4 separate regions of the Homo sapiens genome follow, and regions 2, 3 and 4 are each reported to be linked to region 1. Evidence: microRNA targets listed by miRTarBase, many of them from high-throughput screens and not tested one by one. Region 1 holds a microRNA gene; each other region holds the end of a gene's coding sequence.
What was found. Region 1 holds the annotated microRNA hsa-miR-4701-5p (UUGGCCACCACACCUACCCCUU, at 2,067-2,088, opposite strand). A microRNA usually pairs through its seed, bases 2 to 8, with sites in the 3' UTR of a target mRNA and lowers its output. Matches are read on the target gene's strand: a 7mer-m8 pairs with bases 2 to 8, a 7mer-A1 pairs with bases 2 to 7 and ends in A, and an 8mer does both.

Region 1 (5,992 bases):
AGACGGAATTTCACCGTGTTAGTCAGGATGGTCTTGATCTCTTGACCTCGTGATCCGCCTGCCTCGGACTCCCAAAGTGCTGGGATTACAGGCGTGAGCCACTGCGCCCGGCCTAATTTTTTTTTTTTTTTTTTTTTCAGTAGAAAAGGGGTTTCACTATGTTGGTCAGGCTGGTCTTGAACTCCCGACCTCATGATCTGCCCACCTCGGCTTCCCAAAGTGCTGGGATTACAGGCATGATCCACCGCGCCCGGCATGGCTTCATCCTTTCAACACCTCTAAAAGGTAGGTATTATTATCCCCATTTTATAGATAAGGTAACTGAAGCTTAGAGAAGTTAGAAGACTTCTCAAATAAGCCAGTAAATGGAGCAGCCAGAATTCAAACCAAATAGTCCATCTCTAGTAGCCATGCTATTAACCACTCCCATCCACCAGTTCATTTGAGAGGAAATACCTCTTATTGGACTGGTCACAGATAAGGACAGAAGTATTCAAGTTTATATAAACCTGATTTTTAATCCCAGCTCTGCCACTTACTAGTTGTTTGACCTTGGGCAAGTTATTTAATCTCTCTGAGAGTCAGTCTCTATCCAATGAAAGGCGATAATAGTATCAGGATTAAAATATGCTCAAAAATTTATAGGACAGTGCCTAATGATCTCTGTTCTTAATATCAGACTTGATATAGGAGGTCAGAGGGAAGAAAACCCCACAGGAGCCCTGATGGGAAATCTGTGATCCCATCCCCAGCCTATAATCCCAGCTTCACCTGGAAAAAGTCCTGGGAAAACCCGCCAAGCAACAAAGCCCTCTTACCAATCTTCATCTGGAAATTGTTGAAGGAGTGCTCATTGATGTGCTTCATCTGCTCCATGAGCCGCATGGCGTAGTCAGCCAGGGCAGTGATGTGGGAGCGGCCCACCTGATCGTAGGTGCTGGCGTTCAGCCCTGAGGCAGCCATGTAGGTGCTACCAATCGTCTTGATCTTTTCCAGCTGCCGGAACCGCTCCTCGCTGATAATCTGAACAACACAAGGAGACCTGGCTGTCAAGGCAAAGACCCCAGACCCAGCCCTGCCCCAACACTCATTTCTTGCCACGCCTTGGCTGCCTTCCCCACTTCCCTGTCTCAAGAGCCCCCTTCCAGCTGCTGCTATCAGTGTAAGACTGAGGAGCTGGGAAAACAGGCAGCCTAGGACTCCAGGCAGGACTTGGGCATACAGCTTCAGAAGGTCCCTCCAGTAGCTCACTCACAGAACACAGACCCACAAGTGCAATATTAAGCAATTTCTCCAATCCTTACCTTTTGGGATACTGAGTCCCAGAGTGAGCAAGTGACTTCCCTCCAGAACAGTGAACAGCCCATTCCTGATCTGGATGTTCAGGACACTACCTCACATTTTGCTTCAATTTTCTCTATTCAGAGGACCATCTTGCTTGGTTGGTCTCATGAGGTTCTGTCCACAGACTATTGCCTTCTTCTTCAGTGACATCCACCTGGTACCTATCCTATCCCCCTACAGATCAAGTCCTCCCCTGCTCCCCAACAGTGATGACCCTGCCCCACTAGGGCTGACCCCCTTGCTGCCTCTGACACCTTCATGGGTTCTTGCCTCTGCCTCCACTGTGCATACCCTTACCCCTGATGACTCTGGGTCCCATCAAATCTCTCTCTCTCTTCCCAGTTCCACTCACCCATTCCAATCCCTGGTCTCCAAGTACCCCCCACTCTCTGCCACCACCAGCCAACTGGAAAAGTACCTCATCAAAGTCAGCGATGATCTCGTTGAGCAGCCGCAGGCACTCGACACCCTCATTGTTTGCCTCCAGCTCCACATAGAACTCAGAGAAGTTGGCAATGGAGGCAAACATAACAGCCACACACTCACACGACTGATAGTAGAGTTCATCATTGCGGCGCTCCCGGGCCAGGAAGTGGGCCGCCACGTCCTTGGGCAGAATGTTATGCAGCAGCCTCCGGTTGTATGCCTGTAGCTCCTCCATCTCCTCCTTCTCCCCTGTTGCCTGTGGACACCACACCCATCACCCATTGCCCGACATTCACAAGGGGTAGGTGTGGTGGCCAAGGCTTGGAAGTGCGGATAAGAGGGAATCACATAGAGAAAGAAAGGCCCAGACAGATGAGGCCTAAAGAACAGGCAAAGGGGTAAAGGGGGCAGGTAGAGGATGGGGCAGGGAGTAAGGGATGGGCACAGAGAAGGAATGGAACCAGGGTGGGCCTAGGTGTGGCCTGAGCCTTAGCCAGCTAGCACAAGATACATTTCTGGCCTGGCCCAGGCTCCGCCCCTAGGTTCCTCCTCTTCCCCCAAAGGCCCACACAGTCACCTGTAGTTTCCAGAGGAAGTCTAGGCGGGCAGTCGACTCCACCTGCTGAGCATGCAGATACAGCGCCAGCGCAAACACCAGCAGAATCACAGGGGTCATATATTTGAGGGCCACCCTCCCTGCAGCTGGACTAAGGATAAGCAGAGACATGCTTGGTGTCTGAAGGAGGCATCTAATGGCTCTACCCTTTGCTGCCTCGGAGCCCTCACTTACCAGTCCAGCCCATCAAAGGTCTCATTGGAAGAAGCCCTGGTAAGAAGATAGAAGAGACAAAGTCATCAGTGCTTCCTGGATTGCTGGGTGGGCACATGGAAGGGGAGACAAGAGACTGCATTTACTGAGCACATACTGTAAGTCAGGCATTGGGCCAGGGCTTTTACTTACATTAATTAACTCATTAAGAGTAGAGGTTAAGAAAACCTCTGCTCTTAGAGACTCCTCTACTTACCAGCTATGTGACCTGAGACAAGTCGCTTAACTCTCTAAGCCTCCTTCCTCATCAGTACAACAGGGATCAGATCTAAATAATGTATGTAAAAGGCTTAGCACAGTGCCTGCCATATAGTCAGCCTTCCATAAATGTTAGTTACTATAATCTTTACAACTACCCTGTGATTTAGGTGACATTGCCATTTTACAGATGAAGAAATTGAGGCTCAGAGAAGCTAACTCACCTGTCTAAAGTCACACAGCTAATGAGCAGCAGAGCAGGGATTCAAACCCAGCAGAGACCAGAGGCTTTTTCTACTACAACAAGCTATGGCCACATATCAAAGGAATGGGGTTTTGCAGAGGAAAAGCCAGTGTGGTGTCCCAGGCAAAGCCCCCAAGCAGGAATCAGAAGCTTTGGTTCCTAACCAGAGCCCTGCCACCAAGCAGCTGTATGTCCTATAGGTGGTTAAGATGGTGGATGTGAAAGCACCATGCAAATGTAAGAGGGAATTTTTTTTTTTAATGTCTAGCCTAAAGACACAAGGATTTCCCAGGACTAGGGTTTCCTTGGGGGTAACTATTTGGGGTCACATGCTGGGAGCTCCTCCATCTCCTCCCTTTCCCCCACAGGGGTGTTGTGGCATTCCAAGGCACAAGGGGCATGGGCACCAGAGAGGCTCACAGTGACCTAGAAAGGTGAGGGAAGCTCCTGGGGTATTAAAGGACCTGAGAATAAACTCACAAGCCATGGACGCCAAGCAGTAGGTCATAGTTGTCAAAGATGGTGGCTGGGGGACCCAGCAGAAGCAGCACCAAATAGATGAGCCCCAAGACAAAGATCATGGCCAACTTCCCGATGCTGCTGATGTGCAGGAAGACAGAGCTGGCCAAGAGACTCAGCAGCATGTTCCCGATGAAGTACTGCGGGGGTGGCAGAGGCAGCGTTGGGTGAAGGCAGAGGCCACAGCACCCTTGGGCAGGGAGAGCCCTGCACTCTCCTGCCTGACCTAACCTTCCCACCACACCCCTCAAACCCCCATATCCTCCACCTTCCATGCCCAGCCCCTACAACACACCAGGGCCCCTGGTTGCTCCTAGTGTGGGAGACTCTGGTGAGTTCCTGGGTCCCCAGCGCCCATCACCAGGCCTGGCACAGAAGGGCCAATGTCTGTGCCAGGACAGCCCCCCCACCGCCTGAGCACTGCTCGAACACCTCAGGAAAGCTGCAGGTGGGCATGGTGCCCTCACACAGGGGAGCATCCAGGCCCAGAGAGTAATTGAGCTGCTGCAGGTGGCAGGCAGTGATGTCAGCAGGTGTTAAATTCAGCATCCGGGCTGCACAGCTCCGTATGGGGGTGTGGTTACAGGTGAACTGCAAAAGTGGAGGGGTATATCAGGGTAACCAAGGAGGGAAAGGGTTGCAAGGTACCTGGTGAAGCCATGTACCCTAACCTGGGCTATGCCCAGGTACCTTATACCCCATGGGCCTTAGTACTCACTCAGGGATGACAAGAGGTTGGGAGAACAAGGAAGGAGAACCGGAGTTAACCTTCCCCTATTCTGGGAGGGGGCTCCCTGAGGGCAGAAAATATGTCCTTTTCTCCGCTGTACTCCCAGTGTCCAGGACAGTGCTTGGCACAGAGCAGAGGTGGGAGAATTCCCACTGGACCCTTACCATGTTGGCAATGGCAGAAGTAAACACAAGCAGGACGGAAAAGATGCCAACTGCGGTGCTATGTGCCCGTGAGCGGACAATGCTGCGGGACAGACGTTGCAGGGCCTTAGGGAACAGCTAGAGGCATCAAGAGACCAAGAGTTGAAGGTTGTATCAGCCAAGGAGGAATGGCAACCAGGGATGGGGCCCAGTGGAAGAGGCATGGCCTTCTCCCTCTCCCCATGTGACCTCCTCCCTGTCTGGAGTCCAGCCTGCCCTCCCCAACAGCCTCAGAAATCCCCTTACGTACAGAACCACAGGAGTACACAGCACAGATCAGCACGGTGATTAGCAGCAGCAGGAAGATGCTGGCATAGATCCCAAGCATCAGGGTGGAGCTGGGGCAGAACAGGGCCAGAAAAATCATTTAATTCTGGAAGATCTGGGCATTCTTGTCCCACCCTCTGGAACAAGCAGGGATGCAGGCTCCAGGGATTGTGGGCTTGTGTGGGTATTTAGGAAGCTTCTGGGAAGTGGTGAAGAGAGAAGCTAAGAGAGGAAAGGCAGGGCTCTCACTGTGGGAAGATGAGAAGCTGGATGAAGCAGATGAAGCAGAAGACCAACAGGGCACAGGCAACGTAGGCTCCGAAGCGGGGATCCACCTTCCGGGAGTACTGAGGGAGAGGAGGCTGAGCTGAGTGCTGGGCCCTCCCTAAGGAAGGCAGGGACAGCAAGGACAGGGCACTACCAGGGGTCTCAACAGGGAGGAGATGCAGTTGGCTCAACTGATGAAATCCTCACCCTGCTCTGTGGTCCCTTCTCCATCCCCCAGAAACACCTGTGCCCTCACCTGTGCTCAGCCTTCCCTGCTGCGACCTGCCCCTCCCCCAGCCCTTGTCCTTCTGCCCTGTATCCCTCAAACCTTCTTCTCAAGATCCTCTCTCTGGAAGGTGAGCAGAAACCGGCGCACATGGTCCTTCCGCAGCTGATCAATGCTGCGGGCATCGATGGCACGGCTCAGGAACTCATCCACCTCATCCTCAGGGTTCAGGGCATCTTGGGTGCCCCGGCTGAGGGCAGGAGACATGGTTTCACCAGTTGCATGGGCATGGCCATGTGAGAAACAATGAAAGGAAAGGTATGGACAGCACCTGAGGGAGGGAGGGAGAGCCAGGGGGGTGGCTCCTGCTCCCACACAACACTCCTAAGGTCAGGGAAAAGGAGGATCTCGGCTCCCCCCAGCCCCATCCCAGGGTGCAAGTGCCTTCTCCCTCCTCAGTAACCTGACTTACTTGTCTTTGCTGGAATCATCAATGCCCTGGAGAAAGGGACAGAGTGTGGAGTGAGGTGAAGGGCCAACAACCTTCATCTCTGCAGCTCCTTCCCCCACCCCAACACTGTGCTGAGGGTGTCCCCGTCATATCCTCTGGGGGCACTGGGACCCGAGATGAAATCTTCTCACTGCCCCAATACCAGAAAGCATACATGGAAATGGCAGTCACAAGAAAGGACAGGGTCAGGGACAGGGTATTGAGGGAGCTAAGAAAATGAGGCCCTAG
Region 2 (5,992 bases), not on the chromosome of region 1:
TAGCTGGGATTACAGACATGCACCACCACGCCCAGCTAATTTTTGTATTTTTAGTAGAGACGGGGTTTCACCATGTTGGCCAGGCTGGTCTGGAACTCCTGACCTCAGGTGATCCTCCTGCCTTGGCCTCCTAAAGTGCTGGGATTGCAGGCGTGAGCCACCGCGCCCGGCCCACTTCTTTATCATTGGTAGATTCTGAGCAGATGCTGTGAGCAGGAACCCTTTAGATTGAATAAATGAATAGATATCCTGAGATAATTTTCCACAGCAAATAAGGGAACTGTTTAGTTTTTTAGAGTCTAAATCTGAGGTTGGCAAACTATGGCCTGTGGCCAGCCACCTGTTTCTTTAAATAAACTTTTATTGGAACACAAGCACGTCCATTTGTTTGCATGTCTCCGGCTGCTTTTCTGGTTACAGTGGCAGAGTTGGGTAGTTGCAACAAAGTATTTACTCTCTGGCCCTTTAGAGGAAAAGCTGGCCTCCCTGTCTTAGGCCATAATAAGAGGCTTTAGCCTCCAAAATGAAATGGAACAGCAGGAGAGTTGGAAGGCTAACTTGCTTTGGTGTCTTTTTATTTAACCAGCTGATAAAGAAATTTCGGGATGAAGAGCTTGAGCACCATGACATAGGCCTCGACCATGATGCAGAATTGGTAGGGCCCTACTGTTACCTGTTCTGCTTTGGGACTCCTTATTTGGGAGGCTGAAGGGGCAGGAGGTTTCTGTTGCCAGAAAAATACATTTTAAAGTGACAGCGAAAGGGAGAGAAAACCAATGACGTTGCTTTGACAAAAAGCAAGCAAACGCATTATTGCTCCAGATTGGGAATCTCCTTTCTTGCTTTATGCCTTCTCCTTTTCCCCAGAAGCTTTTTTTTTTTTTTCCCAGACACAGTCTCACTCTGTCTCCCATGCTGGAGTGCAGTGGTGCAGTCTTAGCTCACTGCAGCCTCCTCCTTCCAGGTTCAAGCAATTCTGCCTCAGCCTCCCAAGTAGCTGGGATGACAGGTGCATGCCACCATGCCTGGCTAATTTTTGTATTTTTTATTTTTAGTGGAGACCGAGTTTTCACTGTGTTGGCCAGGCTGGTCTCGAACTCCTGACCTCAGGTGAGCTGCCTGCCTTGGTCTCCCAGGAGCTTCATTTCCTTTCCTGTGAGAATCTGGATGACTCCAATGCTTTGGCAGTAGTAGCAGAGGCATTCCGACCTTTTGAATAGCTTTCTTTGAAACTAAAATAAATTGTTCCTTAGATCTATTTCTTATCCAGAGAAATCCAAAGCCTGCCCTGCCAGCCCTGAATCTTACAACCGAAAATGAGCACATAACATGTTTCTTTGTTTGCTTATTGTTTTTAACAGGCTCCAGCCTATGCCGTCCTGAAGAGCATTATCCAGGCCGGATGCAGAGTGGCGATATATTTATCAGAAAGATTATAAAGTGTGTCCAGTTTTGCCTGTCTATAAAAGATGATAGTAATTTACCAAGTGACATTTGCAGAGAAACAGGTGTACAGTTATCGTTGTACTTTTGTACAATGTGAATTTTGTTAATAAATTATAAGGTTTGTTTTTTTTTTTTTAAACTCTGCAGTGTTGATTTTTCTCTGGGTTGTTTTTTCTGCCATGAGACCAACAGGTCACCAGCCTTGTTCAAGTTACAGCAAACGAAGCTGGGCCTTGTTTGGTCTCATACTTAATTTTCTTTTATATACATGTTTTTCTTTTACATGCATATATATATATTTTATTTTATTTTATGTTTTTTGGAGACAGGGCCTCGCTCTTTTGTCCAGGCCGGGTCACAACTCACTGCAGCCTGGACCTCCTAGCCTCAAGCAATCCACCCACCTCAGCCTTCCAAGTAGCTGGGACTACAGGTGTGCACCACCACAGCTGGCTAATTCTATTTTTTTATAGAGGCGAAGTCTCACTATGTCGCCAGGCTGGTCTCTAACTCCTGGGCTCAGTGATCCTCCCGTTTCGACTTCCCAAAGTGCTGGGATTACAGGTGTGAGCCACTTCACCAGGCCCATTTTCTCCTAAAACTTCAAGGACAAATCATTAATAATGTAACAGGAATCTTTAGGAGAAAAAACAATTTGGTTTACTGATAACAAAAGATAATTGGAAACATGAGAGTATTTGAGATTGGCCAAGCAGAACTATGAAGTCCATCAAGTAAGTCAAAGATCATCGTTTCTGTTTTGAATTGTGGGTGATAATGGGTGGGAGAGTGCTACAGTCTGTATGTCTGTGTCTCCCTAGAATTCATACGATGAAATCTTCACTCTCAAGTTGATAGAAGGTGGGGCCCTTGGGAAGTGTGAGGTCATGAGAGTGGAGCCCTCATGAATGGGATCAGTGCCTTATGAAAGGCCCTAGAGAGATACCTCATCCTCTCCACAGTGTGAGACTTCAAGGGGAAGTATGAGACTTCTCTGAGGAAGCAGACCCTTCACAAGCAAAATCAGCCAGCACTTTGATCACGGACTTCCCAGCCTCTAGGACTGTGAGCAATAAATGTTTGATGTTTATAAGCCACCCAGACTGTGGTATTTTGTTATAGCAGCCTGAACAGACTAAGACGGGGGTGTTGCTTCCATCAAAGGATGTACTAAGTTGTGGATTATTTGTGAAATTGAATTACAACCTTTTCCTTAAGGTCTTTTACCACCTCCCCCCCAAAAAAATCCCCCAAAACTGATTCAGATTTTCATACTTTAATGAAATATTTTATAATTTGCAAATTTTTAAGTAATTTATGAAAAACCTAGATCAGTGGATCTCCTCTCTGGCTGCCCATTAGAATGTCCTGTGGAGATTAAACTTTTTTTTTTCAGTTTATGGACCAAGAGTTTTGATTTATTTAGGGTGGAGTTCAGGATCAGAATGGTTTCAGAAGCTCCCAGGTGATTCCGGAGTGAGTTGGAGCTGCAAGCCCCTGAGCTAGATTATAAGATGCTTCTGGGAAAGAACCACATTTTAGGAATTTGCTTCCCACCCAGTGCCCTGCATTTAATCAGCACCTGATGACTTGGCAGGACTTGCCCCACCAGGGTCTGGCTTTGAAGGGTAGTGGACACCAGGATCCTTTGGATTAATCCTCTGCCACCTCTCTCTTTTCCTCAACCGAGAGTGAATTTATGTAATTGAGTGAAAGTCTACGAATCATAATTGTAATAAATTAAGGCTGGGCATTTGTTTGAAATTAGATAGGATAAAGCCAAAGGTTTGAACAAGTTGTGGATGGTTTGTAAAAATTAATCTTACAAAATAAATGCTGTGTGTGAACACGTTGATTAAATTCAAAAGGGTATTATTTGGTTTTTCTGTAAATTGAACCTTGAAATAAAAGCACAACAAGGTTTTCTTAAGGTACTGATCTGCTCTTTAACAAGAATTTGTAAAGGGTTATAAAAGGTTTACAAGAATCTCACCTCATGGTCAAACTAGTTAAGATTGGATAGATTTATCTATAAGGTATTATTAAAAATTGGGGATGACATTAATAGTAGACTGATGCAAGGATGACATTTGACTCTGTCTTGAACAAGATTTTTATGTAATAGTAAAGGATAATGAAAGATTTTTGTTTGCCTTGCAAATAAACTACCAAAAAAAGAAGGGAAAGGCAAGAGACAAATTGTTTGGAAAGTTGTCTTCCCTTTTAATGGGTAAAGGTTTTGTGCTTTTTAAAAAAGTTTTTGAGTCATCATTTTGGCTAATGATAACCTGGAATTCTATTTTATAATATCAAGTGTTTTAAACCTTTAATATGTTCAGTAGGCTTCCCCAAATCGAACTTTAGCTTCAAGATTGTCTTTTTTGACCCCTAACTTTTGGATGCCATAGAGGGCCCCTGGATTATTTGACATGTTTAATTACATGGGATTGCCAAAATAAGAATAATGTTTAATCTTATTCAGGTTACATTTTAGTGAATAACATTAATATATATATTAATATATGTTCCAAAATTGTATAAGATTTCTAAAATTCTAATATCTGAGTATATGATATCAATTATAATTAGGGTTATTATGTTAAGTTATTGTAAACCACAGAAATAACGAAATTTCTTTGTCAATTGTGTTTTTGACTGTGACTGTCTAAAGACATCTTGTGATTCACAGACAATCGTAGTCTTGTTTTGATCCTCTTCAAAAGGTGGTTTATAATCAGCTGTAGAACTTAGGTGCTCTTAAATGCATATTTCCAATATCTTTAGATTGTGATATTAGAATAAAGGAAAAACATTCAGGACTCATGAAGAGCTGAAATATTCATGAATATCAAGCAGAGCAAGAGTTAACTGAATGGGCTGAACTAATAGAAGACATGTAATCTGTTTAACTTTTTGCTTAAAACTTTGCTGATGTTTTGTTTTTCAGAGTCAAGAAAACTTTTATTTTGAGCTATTTACAGCTTTTAACAATTGAGTAAGGTATACTCCTGTGAACAAAATTTGGAGTGTATTTGTTCCTCTGCTGGTTTCTCTAGAATTCAGAAACTATTTGTGAGTATTCTTATGGCAATGTAGTTATTTGCATAAGTGCAACAAGAATCCATTTTCTTTTGCAACAGGACACAATTGGAGAAACTGGTGGTTTTACCAGTTTCTGATAGAAGGGTGTGCTTCCCTTTAAGGAATCAAGCTTGACTTGCAGAGCCAAAAAAAAGGAGAAACTGGCCTCATACCTTGTCTACACAGTCCTTGTACAGGGCTCCTAACCTGTGATGAGTAAAGAATGTCACTTTCTAACAGGTCCAGGAGCCCCAAGTTATCTTGGGACCTCAAGAAGAGAGGAATTTACCCAACTCATAGGTATTGGAGGGTACAAACCCATTGCTGGGCTTGACTTTAAAAAGTCTTTTCTGATATTCCTTATGGAACAGAATTCCATCAGAGCCAATTTTAAAAGCATATGTGAAAAATAATTATTCTTGCTGTACTTTATGCAAATAATCAGGCCAAGTATAAGACTAAAGTTTATTTTGCAAACAATCCTATTATGATTTGTTTTTAACAAAAATGAAGACTGGAGAGTTTCAAAACTTATCACACTTGTCATTAAATTCTAGTTTTATTAGTTGTTTTTAAGTTTTTGTCTGTATTTTAGACTAACCCTACTTATTCTGTGAACCAACCAGTGATCTCTGGCTGAAGCTCAGAAGAAACAAGGGATGGTTAATATAGAAATCTGGATCTGGATCAATATTCTAGAGGAGGCGGAGGTTGCCGTGAGTTGAGATCATGCCATTTTACTCCAGCCTGGGCAACAAGAGTGAAACTCCATCCCAAAAAAAAAGAAAAAAAGAAAACATGTTCAAACCAATCCTTGTACATGAATGCTCATAATAACTAAAAGTGGAAACAACTCATGTCCATCAACTGATGAACAAAATGGCAATATACCCAAACAAGGCAATCTTACTCAGCTATAAAAAGGAATAAAGTAGTGATACATGATACAACATGGATGAACCTTAAAAATATTATGCTTGGGTCCAGAGTTTCAGTATGGGAAGATGAAAATAGTTCTGGAAATGTATGACGTTGATTATTGAACAACAATGTGAATGTACTTAATGTCAATGGAATGTATTCTTAAAAATGGTTAAAATGGGGCCAGGCACAGTGGCTCATGCCTGTCATCTCAGCACTTTGGGAGGCCAAGGTGGAAGGATCGCTTGAGTCCAGGAGTTTGAGGTTGCAGTGAGCTATGAGAGCACCAGAACAGTCTAGCCTGGGTGACTTTGAGAAGAAAAAAAAAAAAGTTTAGGCCAGTTGCAGTGGCTCACGCCTGTAATCCCAGCACTTTGGGAGGCTGAGGCAGGTGCATCACGAGGTCAGGAGTTCAAGACCAGCCTGGCCAAGATGGTGAAACCCCGTCTCTACTAAAACTACAAAAATTAGCCGGGCGTAGTCCCAGCTACTCACGAGCTGAGGCAGGAGAATCGCTTGAACCCAGGTGGCAGAGATTTCAGTG
Region 3 (5,992 bases), not on the chromosome of region 1:
AAGCTTTTAGGACTAGCCGTCAACTTACTGTACATCATAGATTTCATTATGGTGAGAAACCCTACGAATGTAAGGAATGTGGCAAGGCCTTTAGTGTGTATGGACGACTTAGTCGACATCAGAGTATTCACACTGGTGAGAAGCCCTTTGAATGTAACAAATGTGGGAAGTCCTTTAGGCTCAAAGCAGGCCTTAAAGTACATCAGAGTATTCATACTGGAGAGAAGCCACATGAATGTAAGGAATGTGGAAAGGCCTTTCGTCAGTTTTCCCACCTTGTGGGTCATAAAAGAATTCATACTGGAGAAAAACCCTATGAATGCAAGGAATGCGGGAAGGGCTTTACATGTAGGTATCAACTTACCATGCATCAGAGAATTTATTCAGGGGAGAAACACTATGAATGTAAAGAAAATGGGGAGGCTTTTAGTAGTGGCCATCAACTTACTGCACCTCATACATTTGAAAGTGTTGAGAAACCTTATAAGTGTGAGGAATGTGGGAAAGCCTTTAGTGTGCATGGACGACTTACTCGACATCAGGGTATTCATAGTGGTAAGAAACCCTATGAATGTAACAAATGTGGGAAGTCCTTTAGGCTCAATTCATCCCTTAAAATACATCAAAATATTCATACCGGTGAGAAACCCTACAAATGTAAGGAATGTGGGAAGGCCTTCAGTCAGCGTGCACACCTTGCCCATCATAACAGAATTCATACTGGTTACAAACCCTTTGAATGTAAAGAATGTGGGAAGTCCTTTCGTTGTGCCTCATATCTTGTTATACATGAGAGAATTCATACAGGAGAGAAACCCTATGTATGTCAAGAGTGTGGGAAGGGTTTTAGTTATAGCCATAAACTCACTATACATCGCAGAGTTCATACTGGTGAGAAACCTTATGAATGTAAGGAATGTGGGAAGGCCTTTAGTGTATCTGGACAACTTACTCAGCATCTGAGTATTCACAGTGGTAAGAAACCCTTTGAATGCAACAAATGCGGGAAGTCTTTTAGGTTCATTTCTGTACTTAAAGCCCATCAGAATATTCATAGCGCTGAGAAACCCTACGAATGTAAGGAATGTGGCAAGGCCTTTCGTCATGCCACAAGCCTCATATATCATGACCGAACTCATGCTGGTGAAAAGTCCTATGAATGTAAAGAATGTGGGGAAACTTTTAGTCATGCTTCACATCTTATTATTCATGAGAGAATTCATACCAGTGATAAACCCTATGAATGTAAAAGATGTGGGAAGGCATTTCACTGTGCCTCATATCTTGTTAGACATGAAAGCGTTCATGCTGATGGAAATCCCTATATGTGTGAAGAGTGTGGGAAAGCTTTTAATAGTAGCCATGAACTTAGTATACATCATAGAGTTCATACTGGTGAGAAACCCTTTAAATGTAACAAATGCAGAAGGTCCTTTAGGCTTAGATCCATCCTTGAAGTACATCAGAGAATTCATATTTGATAGAGAAATTGTGGCATATACAGGTAGTAAAGAAAGCACATTGTGTCAATGGATTTATCCCACTGAACAATTTGAATGAAGACAATGTGGAATGGCTTTGAGATACAGTTCAGTTTTTATTAGGCATCAATTTGTATTGGTGTGAACTTTTCAAAATGTAAATCATATATGCAGTTTCTTTGGTATGACCTGTGTTAACTCAGATTCAGAGAATTTATAATGTATTTTTTTAATAACATAAGAAAACTTTTCTGATATTCCTCTAGTTTTGGATTGCCAAAATATTCACAGTAGAGGAAAACTGAGAAAACGTAGGAAACCATTCTTTATACTTGCATGTAAACATCTTCCAGCAACAATCATTTATTGTTAAACCTGGAAAAAGCCATTACACAGGAAACCTCTGTTGATATAAGCGATGATGGGAAAGGCTATTTAGCCACTCTGCATATTTAATGCTCATGATCAACATCTGCTTCCTATAGCTGGGATGATATGGGGGAAGATATTTATCCCTTCTGGGGATCATATATAAATGATGATAGTAGTACCTACAGTATAGTGCTGTTAGAATTACATGAGTTAGATGTGGAGGTCAGAGTGGAAGCAGGTGTGAGAGGGTCCCGCAGAAGAAAACATGGCTGCCAAAGTGTTTGAGTCCATCGGCAAGTTTGGCCTGGCCTTAGCTGTTGCAGGAGGCATGGTGAACTCTGCCTTATGTAATGTGGATGCTGGGCACAGAGCTGCCATCTTTGACCAATTCCGTGGAGTACAGAACATTGTGGTAGGGGAAGGGACTCACTTTCTCATCCCATGTGTACAAAAACCAATTATCTTTGACTGCTGTTCTCAACCACGTAGTGCGCCAGTCATCACTGGTAGCAAAGATTTACAGAATGTCAACATCACACTGTGCATCCTCTTCCGGCCCATCACTAGCCAGCTTCCTCGCATCTTCACCAGCATTGGAGAGGACTACGATGAGTGTGTGCTGCCGTTCATTACCACGGAGATCCTCAAGTCACTGGTGGCTCGCTTTGATGCTGGAGAACTAATCACCCAGAGGGAGCTGGTCTCCAGCCAGGTGAGCAACAACCTTATGGAGTGAGCAGCCACCTTTGGGCTCATTCTGGACGACGTGTCTTTGACACATCTGACCTTCTTGAAGGAGTTAACAGACAGGTGGCCCCCCAGGAAGCAGAGAGCGCCAGATTTGTGGTGGAAAAGGCGGCCATCATCTCTGCTGAGGGTGACTCCAAGGCAGCTGAGCTGATCGCCAACTCACTGGCCACTGCAGGGGACGGCCAGAGCGAGCTGTGCAAGCTGGAAGCTGCAGAAGACATTGCATACCAGCTCTCATGCTCTCGGAACATCACCTGCCTGCCGGCAGGGCAGTCCGTGCTCCTCCAGCTGCCCTAGTGAGGCCCCAGCCTACCTGCACCTCCGTGAGGCAACTGGGCCACAGCCCCGATGATTCGTAACACCACCTTTCGCCCTCACCCCAGAAATCACTGAAATTTCATGATTGGCTTAAAGTGAAGGAAGTAAAGGTAAAATCACTTCAGATCTCTAAAAAACAAAGAATTACATGAGTTAGTACATGAAAAAATTATGGGAAACTACATGAAATATACTGTTACGTTCAATAAACATTAGCTTCTGTATATAATAATATCATTACTTGTGTTATTTTTAGTGCATTTTGACGAAATGAAAACCATTAACCATTCAAGTTTAATGAATTCAAAAAAGTTTTATGCTTTTTAAATTTGAATTCATTCTGGGTAAACAGATAATAAGTAAAAACCATAAGAGGGCTTTCATTCCGATCTGTTTAGGTGAATCAGACACTTAATCCTGGAATGAAATTCAGATGTAAGCTGGGCAGTGTGGCTCACGCCTGTAATCCCAACACTTTGGGAGGCCAAAGTGGGTGGATCACTGGAGGTCAGGAGTTCAAGACCAGACTGGCCAACATGGTGAAACCCCGTCTCTACTAAAAATGCAAAAATTAACTGGGCGTGGTGGCAGGCGCCTGTAATCCCAGCTACTCGGGAGGCTGAGGCAGGAGAATTGTTTGAACCCGGGAGGTGGCAATTGCGGTGCGCGGAGATCACACCACTGCACTCCAGCCTGGGTGACAGAGCAAGACTCCATCTCAAAAAAAAAAAAACCTGCCTGAGAAAGCTCAATGCTGTTCTGAAAACATACTGTTCCAGCCAAAACCTGTAAATAGTGATAGGTCCTTAAGCCCCCTCTTAAAGCAGTTACTTTAGAAAGCTTGCAATTATAAACCATTTCTCTGCCCCTTTGAGATGCAAATCTACCACCAAGAGCTGTCTCCTCAGCTGAGTTTGAAATGCAAACATTCAGAGAGCCAGCTCTTGCTCCAGCCTCTCAGTTGCTGTGGGAGTGTAAGGGCCTAACTTTGGTGGCTGTCTTGCTCCAACTTTCACAACTACCTCAGTCGTAAAGATACAAGAAGTTTGTTTCTACTCTGGATAAATACCAATTAGTTAAAAAAAAAAAAAAAAAAAAACCTGATGCCTTAGTCATATGGACCAAACTCCCCCGTAACACCTTTCAGTGTCTTCTTTAGTACACCCCAACATTTTCAACAACTCCTGATTTTTGTTTCCCAAAGTGGAGCTCAGTTCACACTGGATTCTGTTCCCTAATGCAGTAGTTATTACTGAATAAAATCTGTCTTTACTGCCTTTTACTATTGTCTCACTTTGTTTCTTTTTCTTTTCTTTTTTTTTTTTTGTTTTTGTTTTTTTGAGATGCAGTCTGGCTCTGTGGCCCAGGCTGGAGTACAGTGGCCATGATCTCGGCTCACTGCAACCTCTGCCTCCTGGGTTCAAGTGATGCTCCTGCCTCAGCCTCCCAAGTAGCTGGGATTACAGGCATGTGCCACCACACCCCGCTAATTTTTATATTTTTAGTAGAGATGGGCTTTCACTATGTTGGCCAGGCTTGAACTCATAACCTCAGGCAATCCACCCACCTCGGCCTCCCAAAGTGCTGTGATTACAGGCGTACGCCACCACGCTTGGACTCTTTTCTTTTCTTTGAGACGGAGTCTCGCTCTTGTCACCCAGGGTGGAGTGCAATGGTGCAATCTCGGCTCATTGCAACCTCCGCCTCCCAGGTTCAAGCCATTCTCCTGCCTTAGCCTCCTGAGTAGCTGGGATTACAGGTGCACACCACCACGCCTGGCTAATTTTTGTATTTTTAGTAGACACGGGGTTTCACCATGTTGGCTAGTCTGGTCTTGAACTGCTGACCTCAGGCGATCTGCCCACCTTGGCCTCCCAAAGTGCTGGGATTACAGGTGTTAGCCACTGCATCTGGCCTTTTTGTTTCTTAAGACAGGGTCTAGGTCTGTGGCCTAGGCTGCAGTGTAGTCATGCCATCCATAGCTCTTGGGCTCAAGTGATCCTCTGGCCTCAGCCTCCAGAGTAGCTGGGATTATGGGTGTAGACCACCAGGCCCAGCTAATTAAAAAAAAAAAAATTTGTAGGCATGGGGTCTCACTATTTTGCCCAGGCTGCTCTTAAACTTTTGGCCTCAAGCAATCCAGCTGCCTTAACCTCCCAAAGCACTGGATTACAGGCATGAGCCACTGCGCCCAGCCCCACTGTATTTCTCTTTGACAAAACCTAAACATTCTGTTTATTTGAACACCACTTATATTTATGTTAATGTTCTGAGTAAATGTAAATGAATACTGACAAAATAATAGTATAACATCAGAGAGATTTTTGTTTGTTTGTTGAGACGGAGTCTCGCTCTGTCACCAGGCTGGAACGCAGTGGCACAATCTCAGCTCACCACAACCTCTGACTCCCTGGTTCAAGCAATTCTCCTGCCTCAGCCTCCTGTGTAGCTGGTATTCTACTGGTATTAGCTGGGTGTGGAGGCACGCGCCACCACACCCAGCTAATTTTTGTATTTTAGTTTCACCATGTTGGCCAGGATTGTCTTGATCTCCTGACCTTGTGATCGGCCCACCTCGGCCTCCCAAAGTACTGAGATTACAGACGTGAGCCACCACGCCCAGCCTAGAGAGGTTTTTTTAAACAAAACGAATATGTAACTGATATCTTGTATTTTAAATTTAAGAGGGCATATGAAATTGAATGCATTCTGTGAGAGGAGAGTCAGAGTATTGATAAATTTGGACTTATTAAAATTCCTGGAGTAATGACTTAAAGAACCTACAAACTATTAAAGAGAAAATTGGAATAGTAATACATCAATCCAACATAAAGAAAGGAGAGAAAAAGGAAACATGCAACAAAAAGAAAACAAATTAAAATGCCAGGAGCTAATGCCTGTAATCCCAGCACTTTGGGAGGCAGAGGCGGGAGGATCGTTTGAACCCAGGAGTTCAAGGCCAGCCTGGGCAACATAGGGAGACCCTGTTTTTAAAAAGTAATAAATAAGGCTCCGAAGCAGGGAATGGGGGCAAGATGGTTTACATCTCAAACGCACAAGTGTTGGACAAC
Region 4 (5,000 bases), not on the chromosome of region 1:
TTCAGCCAGTCCTTCCTCCGTGAGCAAGTGGGTCTCTCTGACCCTGGCTATTCCAGGGCCCCCTGGCCATGCCTAGCCTAATAGGACTCTTCATCCGTGAACTTCATGTTTATTGGAGCCCTACTAAGTGCTCAGCGTGTGGCACTGGGTAGATGGGGGAGAGTCAAAAAAAAAAGTAGGCCACATATTACTAACACTGGAATCTAGCAGGGAGGGTCTCACTGTCTCCTTCCTTCTGCACCCCCTTCCCCACAGCTGGAGGAACAGCAGACCTTAGAGGAGGCCATCAATGTGGCCACTGCGGCCATGCAGCAAGGGGCTGTGACCCTGGAGACAACAGTGTCGGAGAGTGGCTGCTGAGTCCAAGAGGGCTGGGTCCCACACCATGCTGGAGGAAGTGCCATCTGCATGGCCACTCTTGCCCCCAAGGGCCCAGGCTGTGGCTGACACATAGAAGGTGGCCACATAGGTCTCTGGGGTGAGAAGACAGCAAGAAAACTGCCTAACTGAAGGGAATGGGGGCCCTGCTCAAGAAGGGGGCCAGGCAGCTGGAATCAGGGGAGTGCATCATCCTCGGGAGCTGACAACAGCCAGGCTACACCAGGGCACCCGCCTCTCAAAATCAGCTGGGCGCCCACTCTCCTCCTAAAGAACACCCTTCTGGCCCTCAGTCTGTTCCCCTTCTCAGGTAGAGATTGGGGCTGCTATGGGGACTGGCCCTGTAGGGTTGAGCCACAGACAGCTCTTCAGCCCAGTAGCAGTGGAGCAGGCCCTGTCCTGCCCTCCCAGCAATAACCACCTCCCTGGAGGCCAGCTGAGATGCCTGGCTACTTGGCACCAGGGACTTCCTGACACCACAGTCAATTAATTCCTCAGGGGCCTGTGGCTGAAGAAAAGGTGCCCAGCCCCCACCACTCCTCAGCTGCCCCCCAACCTCTCTATGGCAGAGAGGCAGGGAGTGGCCCTGTACATAGACTGCTGGGGATTGGGTTTGATTTGTTTTGTTTTTTTTAATTCCATTTTGATAATTTTTTTCCTGCTCTGGGTGGTGGTGGCACATGGATGAATGAGTATTTAATAAAAGTTCCAAATTTCCACCTGGGTCCCTCCATCCTTTCAGCTCTAGGCCCGGGTGGCAGGGTTGGTCAAATCAGGCTATCAGCCCTGTCTCCCTGGCACAAACCCCACTCAGCCTTGGTGCCAGAGTGGTGGGGCTGGCCTGCCAGGGACACAGGTGGGAAGGAAGCCCAGTATAAGATAAAGCCCTGAGGAGCTGCTGGTGGCTTCTTGCCCACAGCTGAGCAGGTGGGCTCCAGGGTAGCCAAACAGGACCAGGGTGACCGCTGCTTCCAGGCTCTGGCTGAATCTCAGGCCTCATGTGATTGAGCTGGGGGAACTCTTTTCCTGCCTTTTCTTGTGAAACGTAGTCAGAGCCCCTCCAACCCAGCCACCCCCAAATCACACAGTCAGCTTCTCCAAGAGGGCAAAGCCCCAGGTTAGAGTGAGGCTGGGGGACACCTTTGCCAAGGTTACTGAGATTCAAGGAGCAGAGTCTGATGCCTCTGGAGCTGAAGTCTTGGCTCTATTACCCAGCTCTGGGGGTGCCCACCTAGGTGCCTAGGACTGTGCTGTGGGATTTCAAAGCCACAATCAGACCCCACTGAAAAGTGAGTTGGTGAGACCAGATCAGCTCCAGGGGGAAGAAGGGATACAGGGGAAGGCACTTGATGGGAAGAAGCTCTGGGTTTGACTCTGCCTACACAGGAACATTGCAGGGATTGGTGGTGCCTCTTTTCCTCTCTCTGCTGTGATGGATATGCCCCAACCCCTTCCTGCCTCCTAGGATTGGAACCCCCTCCTCTGATCCAGGCATCCTCTCCCAGGATGCCTAGAAAGCTCCCATTTACTCTTGCCACCAGCTCCTTGGGAAGAGAGGGGCGGGGGCGTGCTTCCAGGCAGGAGGTATTCCCAGCACCTTACTTGGAGGGATTTTTATTTGGCTTAGGGGGTAGGGGGAGGTGTCTTAGAATTGGCCTGAGCAGATGTCTTCAACATCTGTGACCACCATTCCTGGTGTGGGCGTGTCCCAGTCCTTTTGGACACTGGATCTGAAGAAAGGAAGCACTGACATGGAGGGCCCTGAATCCCAAGCCTGCTGCTGCTGGGACCCTTAAAGTTGAGGTGCACCACAAGGCTCACCCCCATGTGTTTCAGGAAGTTTCCAGTGTCTTCAGGGCTACTGGGGCTAGAGTGGGCAGTGCTCTGAGTACCGTTTAGAGCCAGTGCTGAGGGGATAGGGAGCCAGCAAGTCAAGTGCCACATCCTGACCTGGAGAGGTGCCCTGGCCCATTTCCTTCTCCAGCTTTGTGATGTTGCCTTTGTTTCCTTCCACTTGGATGGAGTCCCACCACCATGGTAATGTTAAGTAGCACCAAAAGCTCTACCCAGAGCCTACTATGTGCTTTACGTCCATTCTCAGACATTCTTACAACACGGAGGCATTTTTCCTGCTTTACAAATGAGGAAACTGCTCAAGGAGGTTAAGTAACTTACCCAAGGCCTCCTATGTTGAACTAGGACTGGACCTTTACTCTGTCTGACCCCAATATCAGGATGAGCTTGCTTTTTCCCTCAGCAAGCTGCGTCTGGGAGCCCTGGAAGGCTCCAGAAGCCTCCGGGTCTGAGGAGGCTTCTAAAAGGGCCTCACATGCCCCGGGAGCCACGTGGATACAGAACGAGGGTTCCCGCTCTCGGAGAGTTGGTCCCCAGTTCCCATGCAGGGAGTGGAGCCTCTGAGCACTGCCAGAACAACAGGCAGGGTTCTCGACAGCACAGAGCCTCACGCAATGTGCAGGCAGGTGGTGCTCTCGCTCCACCACGGCACCTCTGCGGTCTCTGCAGCCGTTTGCATTTCCTGAAACCGGATCTTAGTGTCAGAGCCGCCCCCAGCCGGGCGGGCGCCTCAGCCATGGCCCTGCGCAAGGAACTGCTCAAGTCCATCTGGTACGCCTTTACCGCGCTGGACGTGGAGAAGAGTGGCAAAGTCTCCAAGTCCCAGCTCAAGGTGAGGGGCACCCGGGACCCGGGGGAGGACGGCAGATGCACCACACCAGCCCCTGCCGCCTGGGAGCCAGGTGTGGACACTGTGCCACTCCAGGGGCACCCAGCCATCCAGCGTCCCGGGCCTGGGGTCGGGGGGCTGGTCCTGGGTAACTGGGCCAACGTAGCCTGGTAGATGCCGCTGCCCACCCTCCAGAGACCTAGTGAAGTGTGTGCAGAAACCTTGCGCAGAACTGGGCCCCACAACTGGAGGCCAGGAGGTTCTGAGGGCCATTATGGGGTTCTGAGGGCCAGGAGCCAGGCCACATCCCAGACTCTGTGTGATGAGCACACACACCTCCACAGAGTCATGCTTGGGCACGCAGTGTGCTCTTTCTTGCTGCTTCCTCCTGACTTTCAAGAGAAACAGTTAGCCAGTGCTTGGCAGTCATTTCCTCTGGAGCTGAGAGAGGCATAAAGGGGCCGCCCCCAGTCCCAAACCTGTCTGGCCTGTCTAACCCTGCCCGCCAGGTGGGACAGAGCTGCGGAGTGGGTGAGGACTGAGGACCCTATTATACTGCTACGCAGCTCACCCCCCTATCCACCACACATATCAGGTTGGGAAACTTACCTTAGGCCTTGAGACCTCAGGTAGGGAAGGGGGAGAATCTAAGCCCAGGAAAATCCCAATCAATGATTGTCCTGAAGTCAATCATCTGGCCTAGACAATTTCTGGGAGGCCAAGGAGTTTTTCTCTCTCTTCCTCTAGTCCTCCAGTAGTGCTGCCTTCCCTACCCTAGTTAGTGGGGAGGAAGCAAGGCCCTCAGCCACTAGAATCAGCGAACACTGGGGGAAAGGAGCAAGGTAGGCCTCAGCTCTCTAGGACCTGCCATAGGGGTGCCTTCGTTCACTCTGCAAGTACTTGAGTGCCCCTCGTGAGGCTCTGTGCCTGGCATGTGGCTAGGCACTAAACTGGTGTCTCCCTGCCCCATCCTCCAAAGGAGACGTGTGGTCTCAAGGAAACCTCCATTCTTAATGACCGAGGTAGAGGGTGCTGGATACCTGAGAGATGAATGGGACAGAACAGTTATTGTGCCCCACCACCGTTCCAACCCCCTACTTTACTGAACTTGGATGTGAGGAACTTGAATATCCCAAACTGGTCCTATGTTAAATTCCTTACCTGGATTTGTGAGCATCTAATAGATGATTTCACTCCCCCAGGAAGGAGAGCCCACTACTATCTTTTGTCACCTAGGGAGAACCTCCTAACAGGCAGATTCTTCCTTACATCCTATTTAAATCTCTTGTATTGCAGATCATGTCATTTGGTTGGGTCCTCAGTATAAATGGAAAAAAGTCGATCATCCAAAATCCATTTCTGCAAACTCTGTGTCCCACCCCTACCTCCCACCCTGTCCCTTTAATATCTTGCCAGACAATACCAGCCCCCGTGGCTTTTTGCTTCCAGGGTAACATTTTCCACTTCTGTATTACCTGTGGCCACTGAGACCTCTCCAGGCTCTCTCTGCCCTTCACATGGAAAGTACAGCCTTTAAGTGGCTCCCCTTTTCCTGGTGCCATCAGCCAGTAAAGCCTCCTAGCTTGAGCCTCTGTCTTGCCCTCTAAAAGGGCCACTACCCACTCCCTCATCCCCACAGGTTGCGTATTTCTAGGGAAATACTCCATGGAGAGCTTGCATGCTTGAACTGTCCACTGTCTGTACCTCATCACAGCTCATATTGAACCTACTGCCAGCAACATCTCTGGTCACACAGGATCAATTATAGAGTTCCCTCCTACTTGACAGAAAACTTGTCAACTCTGGAAACCTGGGCTAACAGTGGGAGTCTCAGGGGCCAAGTGGGGGTGGGGCGGAAATGGCGGGGCTCCTTTCAAGCCCATAATAGTGAATATTGGAAGAGGAGGAAGTAGTGATAGTGTTGGGGGGCGGGGATTCC

Region 2: miRTarBase lists COQ7 as a target of hsa-miR-4701-5p. Seed matches in the 3' UTR shown: 7mer-A1 at 2,152-2,158.
Region 3: the mRNA of ZNF607 is a reported target of hsa-miR-4701-5p. The part of its 3' UTR that is shown has no 7-base or 8-base seed match.
Region 4: miRTarBase lists ZNF76 as a target of hsa-miR-4701-5p. Seed matches in the 3' UTR shown: 7mer-m8 at 458-464.

Annotation. Positions count from the first base shown.
Region 1 is chr12:48,769,948-48,775,939 of GRCh38, forward strand. It overlaps MIR4701 (microRNA 4701), which reads right to left and starts at 2,090; the gene lies at 2,028-2,090. ADCY6 (adenylate cyclase 6) reads right to left here. Exons shown (of 22, transcript NM_015270.5): 10 at 5,726-5,751; 11 at 5,356-5,503; 12 at 5,010-5,107; 13 at 4,744-4,831; 14 at 4,455-4,571; 15 at 3,993-4,151; 16 at 3,522-3,700; 17 at 2,561-2,596; 18 at 2,348-2,477; 19 at 1,763-2,026; 20 at 819-1,023. It also overlaps a transcript of SPMIP11 not described here.
Region 2 is chr16:19,076,720-19,082,711 of GRCh38, forward strand. It overlaps COQ7 (coenzyme Q7, hydroxylase), which reads left to right. Exons shown (of 6, transcript NM_016138.5): 5 at 587-655; 6 at 1,362-3,376. The coding sequence ends at 1,439. Among named protein-coding and RNA genes, the nearest start is that of COQ7-DT, 12 kb to the left of the region's middle.
Region 3 is chr19:37,693,529-37,699,520 of GRCh38, reverse strand. It overlaps ZNF607 (zinc finger protein 607), which reads left to right. Exons shown (of 5, transcript NM_032689.5): 5 at 1-3,150. The coding sequence ends at 1,481. It also overlaps the pseudogene SELENOKP1. Among named protein-coding and RNA genes, the nearest start is that of ZNF607, 23 kb to the left of the region's middle. RefSeq lists enhancers at 2,319-2,993, 3,670-4,345.
Region 4 is chr6:35,294,889-35,299,888 of GRCh38, forward strand. It overlaps ZNF76 (zinc finger protein 76), which reads left to right. Exons shown (of 14, transcript NM_003427.5): 14 at 256-1,097. The coding sequence ends at 360. DEF6 (DEF6 guanine nucleotide exchange factor) reads left to right here and starts at 2,930. Exons shown (of 11, transcript NM_022047.4): 1 at 2,930-3,064. The coding sequence starts at 2,969. RefSeq lists a silencer at 1,267-1,431.